2 separate regions of the Homo sapiens genome follow, and region 1 is reported to be linked to region 2. Evidence: microRNA targets listed by miRTarBase, many of them from high-throughput screens and not tested one by one. Region 2 holds a microRNA gene; the other region holds the end of a gene's coding sequence. Distances are between the middles of the regions.

The links. Region 2 holds the annotated microRNA hsa-miR-3908 (GAGCAAUGUAGGUAGACUGUUU, at 1,847-1,868, shown strand). A microRNA usually pairs through its seed, bases 2 to 8, with sites in the 3' UTR of a target mRNA and lowers its output. Matches are read on the target gene's strand: a 7mer-m8 pairs with bases 2 to 8, a 7mer-A1 pairs with bases 2 to 7 and ends in A, and an 8mer does both.
Region 1: the mRNA of NAA25 is a reported target of hsa-miR-3908. Seed matches in the 3' UTR shown: 7mer-m8 at 1,557-1,563.

Annotation. Positions count from the first base shown.
Region 1 is chr12:112,025,672-112,030,065 of GRCh38, forward strand. NAA25 (N-alpha-acetyltransferase 25, NatB auxiliary subunit) reads right to left here. Exons shown (of 24, transcript NM_024953.4): 24 at 1,018-3,982. The coding sequence ends at 3,860. Among named protein-coding and RNA genes, the nearest start is that of MIR3657, 9.8 kb to the right of the region's middle.
Region 2 is chr12:123,534,567-123,538,960 of GRCh38, forward strand. It overlaps MIR3908 (microRNA 3908), which reads left to right and starts at 1,843; the gene lies at 1,843-1,968. RefSeq lists a silencer at 1-81.

The DNA of each region.
Region 1 (4,394 bases), 12 Mb from region 2:
GTAATCCCAGCTACTCGGGAGGCTGAGGCAGGAGAATCACTTGAACCCAGGAGGCCGAGACTGGTGAACCAAGATCGTGCCACTGCACTCCAGCCTGGCGACAGAGCGAGACTCCGTCTCAAAAAAATAAAAGAAAAACCTTGGGATGGAGTTAATTCATAACTGAAGAAACAGGCAAAAACTGACTCTTTGGGGCTCATACAAGACAATATCACAGGACAGAAAGTAAAAAAGAGCTAAGTTCCTACTTTCACTGTGTTGTCAATGTACCTGAATAAGTTCCGAATCCCAGCTTGTGGGTTCGAGTACCCTTGGATAAATCATGTCATCAGCCTGCCTGAAATCCTCTGGTAACTTCCCACTAAATTTAGAATAAAATCTCATTCCTTCCCCGGACTACTAAGTCCTGATGGCTCTCATCCCTACTCAACTTTCTATCTCAATCCTACCCCTTTCATTAAGTCCCAGCCACTTGAACATTTTTTCACTTCCTGGAACCGGCTCAGCAGTTTCCTGCCTTGGGGCATTTGCATGTGTGTTACTTTTTTCCTGACAGTTCATCATTCAGATCAGAGGTCACCACTTAGGAGGTCCTCCTGTGACCCATTCTGAAGTGACCCTCTAGACACACTCAATTCACATACTGTGATTTACATTATTAAGCAGGATGTAATTACAAACTAATATTTTTATTGCCTCTTCCCCACCTCACAGCCACTAACTAGGATATATGTTACTCACTTACTAACTAGGACACAGGGTCTCACCAGAGCCTAAAGTGGAATCTGCTATATGCTAATTTAAGTGTTCAATACATATATGTTGAATTAATAACTGCAAGTACAGAAGGTACTAACTTTTGAGTCAAAAGGACTAGCTGACTTCAAATAAAAATTCTAAATTCTCAAATATTAAAAATATGTTGGGATATAGCCCTAAATTCACAACTGAGATGAATTACACCATTCAGAAGGTTGTGGCTTCTAAGAATCTGAACAAAAAGGAACCAGGCAGAAATGCCAACTTAAAATGAAAATGTTTATATAAATTAACCCATCCAGTTTAAAGTAGATTTGCTATGCTTCACTTACTTAAGGAAGAATATATACTTCCTATATTAATAAATCACATCAAATAAGTAGGAAGTTTCAATAACAAGCCTGTAGATACATTGAAACCCCTTTTTATATTAAAAGTTAAAATGAAAGACAAATCCAGATTGAACATAGTGATTGCAAAATATAATGCAATTTTCAACAATTAAAATTATGAAAATATACAAAATTGATGGGCAACACAACTAGGCATTTGTACATTTTCCATTATGTGGAGAACACTACAAGTTTCTCTACCTTTTATCTACATCAGATAAATGATTTAAACCAAATGTTTGCTTTGGAGAGTCTTAACTTAGGATCTCAGTAGTATAAAAAGCAATAATTTTTCAGTCTGTAAACAGTAGTCGTGATTTTTCTCCTTTCCTTTTTTAAATATCAGTTTACCACACAAAAACAAACAAAACAAAAAAACCCATACAAATCAAAAACAGCAGCAGCAGCAATGGGTTATTTGGGAATTCTCTTCAAATACCAATGGCATACGATTGCTGGGAGAGGGTGCTTTTTACTCATGTAAGAATATATATATATATATATTTTTTTAACTGTACACAATTTATAGTACATGAGGGTTTCCAAAAGAACAGATTGATAAGAGATATTGGCCATTTCTGCATAATTTCATTCTTTTTACAATTATCTCAAAATGTGAAAGCTGGATCTAATTGAAATGCTACATTTAGTAGGAAAATCAGCAAATAACAAAGGAAGCATAACCTCAACATAACATTATTTGTCATTAAAGCCAGTAGAGGTCCCAGATATCTTTAGGCAAGAGACTGGTTAGGAAGACCACTAGAGTCACACACTGTCCCTGAGGACCAAGGCTAGCCCACTGAACATACATATGCTAGATTGATCATGGTCAGTCGATAGACTTTTTCAAAGAGCATTTCTACAGTACAGTACTTTTTTGGATATTCAGAGAGACATCATTTCAAGAACACACGCCATACACATGTACCCCACCCTCCCCAGCAGACACACACAAAGTTCCATCTTAAACAGGCCATAGTTTTATGAAAGAATATGTTGTCATTACATGAAATTCAGAATTAACCACAATTTTCCATTCATCTTGTTCAAGACAGTTCTTCCTTTTGGGATAGGGTATATGACCAGCTGTTGCTACTCATATCAAAAATAAATTTTTGAAATTAGTTGATGGACTAGGATTTCCAACAAGCCTTATTTTGAACAGGTAATGTAGTAATTGTTTAAAATTTCCTTGGAAGTTTAAGCACTGTATCAAATTATGAATCTAAGAAAGTCAAAATGAAGGGACAAAATGCAATTACTTTGCGTACACAGATATTCCCAGCTCTCTTGGTTGCTTTTAAAAGAAAAAAGTACCACATTTCACTGGAGCAGTGCAGGTTGGAAAGCACCTTTAAGGTCTTCAAGACCAATCCTCCATTGGATGCTTAATTTCCTCATCAAATTCATTTCTTTGCTCTTACAGAATTAAACTTGAACTATATTTAGGTAACAGACCAAAAACAGAAGCAGGGATTTAAACAGAAAAATATTATCAAAGAAACTGCATAAATTGTAGGACATTTTCAAGAGCAATTTTTACCTCTTCTATCAGACCAACCACTGATAGAAGAAGCTAGAGTCTTGGGGACATCCAGGTGAACAAAGTAAACACCATCCTGTTATAATTCTCTAAGTTTGAAGAAAGTAGTCCAAACCTCAAACCCACTGAATAACATTTCTTTTGCCAGCCTAAAACTTAAAGCCTAAGGCTAAATCCATAATATTACATTCCTTCCTTCCCAAACCCCCCACACTTAAAACATTAAAGTATTAAATCTTAATTTTCAAGTCATATATATATGTGTATATATATATATGTATATATATGACTCACAAAACCAATGAAATAAGTATCATACTTGCCTGCATAAATTATGTGCACCTCTCTTCTTTGAAACAGTCATTCCTATCTTTCCCAAATGTATGAAAGACAGAAAGCTAGTCCTCAGCGGGCTTAATAAGTGGTCTGCACTGCTTTCCCCTCTAAACAGCTATAAATTAACAGAGCCTTCCTTGCCTTCTTACCTGAGATTTTTAACTCTCACAGAAGCTAGGATGGGGATGTCTTAACTATCAGACAAAAACTAGCCAAAAACTAAGTGCCTGTGGTCATCCAAGTGGTGCCCTTCTATTGCGGGTGCATATGCCAGATCTCATCTAAGGTCCTTTGTGTACCTGCCTTGGGTTCTGTGGGAGCCAAGTAGCTGAGAAAGCCTCAAAACAAACTTACTGCTGTGAAAAGGGGGTCTGTTCCCAGGCATGGTCTCCCCTCCACTTCTTGTGGCTCAAGGACCAGACCAAAAACTCTCAATGTTATTTATAATGGAAGGGCTATTCAGTTGCTATGAGGTTGATGCTTTATGCTTAATTTCTATTGCTGTTTTTATAGACCCCCCGCTCCCCTGAAAAGATGTTTCTGGTGATGGGAAGAAGAAAAGTAGGGTTCTCTTGTTGCTGCCATATGCATATGAACATGTATAAAAAGTGGTCAAACCCAGATGAGGGTCCCGCTTCTGGTTTATATACAATAATTTAATCAGTTGTATATATTTAACACCTAAAAAAATTCACGATCAAAGTCCTTCATGCATTTTATGAGGAAGTTCTGGATTAAAATCATGGTCAACCAGATGTTGCTTTTGCCTGGGAAGATGGTGTCATATTCTGTTGCAGAGTCATCAGTGCCCATGATAGATACTTCCTTAAATTTTTAGTTTCTTTGTGGTCTCAAGTCTTTTTTTCAGCAGCTCCCCCATTTCCAGAAGTGAGTGCAGATAACTGCTCTGCACCTTCCCTTGCACAGTCTTTGAAAATTTTCTCTCTTCCTATAAAGGAGGAGACAAGAATAATTAGTCTTGTTTAAAAACCATCCCCCCAGATTCTAGTTCTCAGATAAAAGTTAAAGCTGCCATTACCTTTGGTCTCATTGCAAGCTCCATCAGAACACAGTGGGTCATTTTCAATTGCATAAAATGCAAAGAAGGCAAAAGGTCATCACGAATGGGTATTTTTCGATGTGATTCTTCATGGAAACCCTATTGCTTTAGCATCATTACTCTTTCAAGTACCCTTTGTTGTAAGTTATATAAGGTAGAAAAACTGGGCCAGGCACGGTGGCTCACGCCTGTAATTCCAACACTTTGGGATGCCCAGGCAGGTGGATCACTTGAGCCCAGGAGTTTGAAACCAGCCTGGTCAACATGGTGAAACCCCATCTCTACTAAAAATACAAAACTT
Region 2 (4,394 bases):
GCCAAATCCACTTGTCCATCAGACCCCCTCCCACTCCCGGGAGAACGTTTCCTGAACCCAGAACCCCATCCACCCTCCCCGCCCCCCACGCAGGAGTTAAGGACCCCCTTGCAAACTCACAGTCCCCTGCTTGCCCCATCAGGATTGCTCTTAGCATCCTGAGTTTTCACCGTGTGGTTGCAGGTAGGTTTCCACCGTCAGATCTTGGCTCCTTGAGGGAAGAAATCTTAATGCCCTTGTAGCCATAAAGCGCACCCCAACGTGGCACGTATTGATTAAAAATCTAAAAGTTGGCCGGGCGCGGTGGCTCACGCCTGTAATCCCAGCACTTTGGGAGACTGAGGTGGACGAGGTCAGGAGTTCAAGACCAGCCTAGCCAAGGTGGTGAAACCCCGTCTCTACTAAAAATACAAAAATTAGCCGGGCATGGTGGCGCATGCCTGTAATCCCAGCTACTCAGGAGGCTGAGGCAGAGAGTTGCTTAAACCCGGGAGGCGGAGGTTGCAGCAAGCCGAAATCGCGCCACTGCACTGCAGGCTGGGTGACAGAGCAAGACTCCATCTCAAAATAATAATATAATACAATAAATAAATAAATAAATAGTAAAAAAAAAAAAATTAAGGCCAGGCGGGGTGGCTCACGCCTGTAATCCCAGCACTTTGGGAGGCCGAGGTGGGAAAATTTCTAGAGCTCAGGAGTTCGAGACCAGCCTGGCCAACATGGTGAAACCACGCCTCTACTAAAAATACAAAAATTAGCCAGACATGGTGGCATGTGCCTGTAATCCCAGCTACTCAAGAGGCTGAGGCGCGAGAATCATTTGAGCCTGGGAGGCAGAGGTTGCAGTGAGCCAAGATCGTGCCACTGCACTCCAGCTTGGGCAACAAGAGCGAAACTCCGTCTCAAAAAAAAAAAAGAAAAAAAAAAAAGTAAAATAAAAAAATTAGCCAGACGTGGTGGTGAGAGCCTGTAGTCCCAGGTATTTGGGAGGCTGAGGTGGGAAGATCCCTTGAGCCTGGGAGGCAGAGGTTGCAGTGAGTTGAGATCACACCACTATGCTCCAAACTGGGCGACAGAGCGAAACTCTGTCTCAGAAAAATAAAAAATAAAAATAAATACTCCTGGCCACAGTGGCTCATGCTTGTAATCCTAGCACTTTGGGAGGCCAGGGCTGGAGGATCACTTGAGCCCAAGATTTCGAGACCAGCCTGGGCAGCATGGCAAAACCCCGTCTCTATTTAAAAAAAAGTCTGGTTGCAGTGACTTATGCCTGTAATCCCAGCACTTTGGGAGGCCAAGGGGGGCAGATCAGTTGAGGTCAGGAGTTCAAGATCAGCCTGGCCAACATGGTGAAACCTCATCTCTACTAAAAATACAAAAAAAAAAAAAAATTAGCCAGGCGTGGTGGCAGGCGCCTGTAATCCCAGCTACTCAGGAGGCTGAGGCAGGAGGATCACTTGAACCCGGGAGGCAGAGGTTGCAGTGAGCTGAGATCGAGATCGTGCCACTGCACTCCAGCCTGGGTGACAAAGCGAGACTCTGTCTCAAAATAAATAAATAAATAAATTAATTAATTAATTAAATAAAAATTACCCGACTCTGGTGGCAAGTGCCTGTAGTCCCAGCTACTCGGGAGACTGAGGTGGAAGGATGACTTGAGTCCCAGGGAGCAGAGGTTGCAGTGAGCTGTGATTACACCACTGCACTCCAACCTGGGTGACATAGGGAGACCCTGTCTCAAAAACAACAAAAAAACTCATACGTTATCTAGCACGGTGGCGTGAGCCTGTAGTTCCAGCTACTCCAGTGGGAGGATCCCTTGAGTTCAAGAGTTCTAGTCTAGCCTGAGCAATGTAGGTAGACTGTTTCTAAAAAAATAAAAAGTTAAAAAAATTTATGTTAACGTGTAATGTGTTTACTAATTTTTTTTTTTTTTTTTGGAGACAGAGTCTCCCTCTGTCGCCAGGCTAGAGTGCAGTGGCTCGATCTCAGCTCGCTGCAGCTTCGACCTCCCAGGTTCAAGCAATTTCCCTGCCTCAGCCCCCAAGTAGCTAGGATTACAGGCGCATGCCACCATGCCTGGCCGATTTTTTTGTATTTTTAGTAGAGAGGGGGTTTCACCATGTTAGCCAGACTGATCTCGAACTCCTGACCTCAGGCAATCTGCCTGCCTCAGCCTCCCAAAGTGCTGGGATTACAGGCATAAGCCATCCTCCCGGACTATTTTTTAATTAATATTTTTTAAAGCATCAGTTTAAATTTCTTTTCTTTTCTTTTCTTTTTCTTCTTCTTCCCTTCCCTCCCCTCCCCTCCCCTTTCTTTCTTCCTTTCCTTTCCTTTCCTTTCTCTTTCTTTCTTTCTTTCTTTCTTTCTTTCTTTCTTTCTTTCCTTTCTCTCTCTTTCTCTCTCCCTCCCTCCCTCCCTCCCTCCCTCCCTCCCTCCCTCTCTCTCTCTTTCTTTCTTTCTTTCTTTTCAGGGTCTAGTTCTGTTGCCCAAGGTAGTGCAGTGGTGCGATCGTAGCTCACTGCAGCCTCAAACTCCTGGGCTCAAGCGGTCCTCCCACTTCAGCCTCCTGAGTTAGCTGGGATTATAAATTTCTATTTACAGTAGATATGAGCAGATATAACTCACCTAACAAAAGCTCTTTCAAGGCTAGACACAGTGGCTTACGCCTGTAATCCTAGCACTTTGGGAGGCTGAGGTGGGCGGATCACCTCAGATCGGGAGTTTGAGACCAGCCTGCCCAACATGGTGAAATCCTGTCTCTACTAAAAATATAAAAATTAGCCGGTGTGTGGCCCGTGCCTGTAATACGAGCTACTAGGGAGGCTGAGGCACGAGAATTCCTTGAACTCAGGAGACGGAGGTTGCAGTGAGCCAAGGTCATGCCTCTTCACTCCAGCCTGGGCAACAGAGTGAGACTCTGTCTCAAAAAAACAAACAAAAAAAAACAAAAACAAACAAACAAACAAAAACTCTTTAAATATTGTTTTAGTGTAAAGGGGCTCTGAGGCCAAAAAGTTTCAGAACTTCTGCCTTATAACATCCTAAGAGGTAAATTTTATTATCTTATTTTACAAATGAGGAAACTGAGGCACAGAGAGGTTAAAAGGCTCACCCAAAGCCAGGCAGCTGGTGAAGGTAAATTCAGGGTCAGACCTGCGCAGTCTGGCCTCGAGTCTGTGCCATAACCTTCTCATCCTTGTTCCTTACACGTGCTAAGCACTCTAAACCTTCTGGATCCTTCCAACAACCCAAATGAAGCTGACATATTATTGCTGTCCCCTTTCTTTTCTTTTTTCTTTTATTGAGACGGATTCTCGCTCTGTCACCCAGGCTGGAGTGCGGTGGCAAAATCTCAGCTCACTTCAATCTCTGCCTCCCAGGTTCAAGCAATTCTCCTGCCTCAGCCTCCTTAGTAGCTGGGACTACAGGCACCTGACACCATGCCCAGCTAATTTTTGTATTTTTAGTAGATACAAAGGTTCACCATGTTGGCCAGGCTGGTCTCGAACTCCTGACCTCAGGTGATCCACCCACGTTGGCCTCCCAAAGTGCTGGGATTACAGTGTGAGCCACTGTGCCTGGCCAGTGCTGTCCCCTTTTTCTTCTTCTTCTTTTTTTTTTTTTTTTTTTTTTGAGATTGAGTCTAGCTGTGTTGTCAGGCTGGAGTGCAGTGGCGTGATCTCGGCTCACTGCAGCCTCTGCCTCCAGGGTTCAAGCGATTCTCCTGCCTCAGCCTCCCAAGTAGCTGGGACTACAGGCATGTGCCACTACACTTGGCTAATTTTTGTATTTTTAGTAGAGATGGGGTTTCATCATGTTGGCCAGGATGGTCTCGATCTCTTGACCTCGTGATCTGCCCCCCTCGGCCTCCCAAAGTGCTGGGATTACAGGTGTGAGCCACGCCTGGCCTTGCTGTCCACTTTCTAAGTTAAAGACAGGGAGGCAGGGAAAGGTGTGCTGATTTCCTGTAGCTACTATAACGAATTGCCACAAACTTGGTGACTTGAAACAAAACTAGCTGGGCATAGTGGCTCACGCCTGTAATCCCAACACTTTCGGAGGTGGAAGAGGGAGGATCACTTGAGCCCAGGAGTTGGAGACCAGCCTGGGCAGTGTAGTGAGACTCGATCTCTATAAAAAAAGTTTTTAGGTCAGGTGTGGTGGCTCAGTCCTATAATCCCAGCACTTTGGGAGGCCAAGGCAGGTGGATTGCTTGAGCTCAGGAGTTGGACACCAGCCTGGGCAACATGGAGAAACCCCATCTCTACAAAAAATACAAAAATTTAGCTGGGCATGGTGGCATGTGCCTGTAGCCCCAGTTACTTAGGGGGCTGAGACAGGAGGATTGCTTGAACCTGGGAGGTCAAAGCTGCAGTGAGCCACAATCC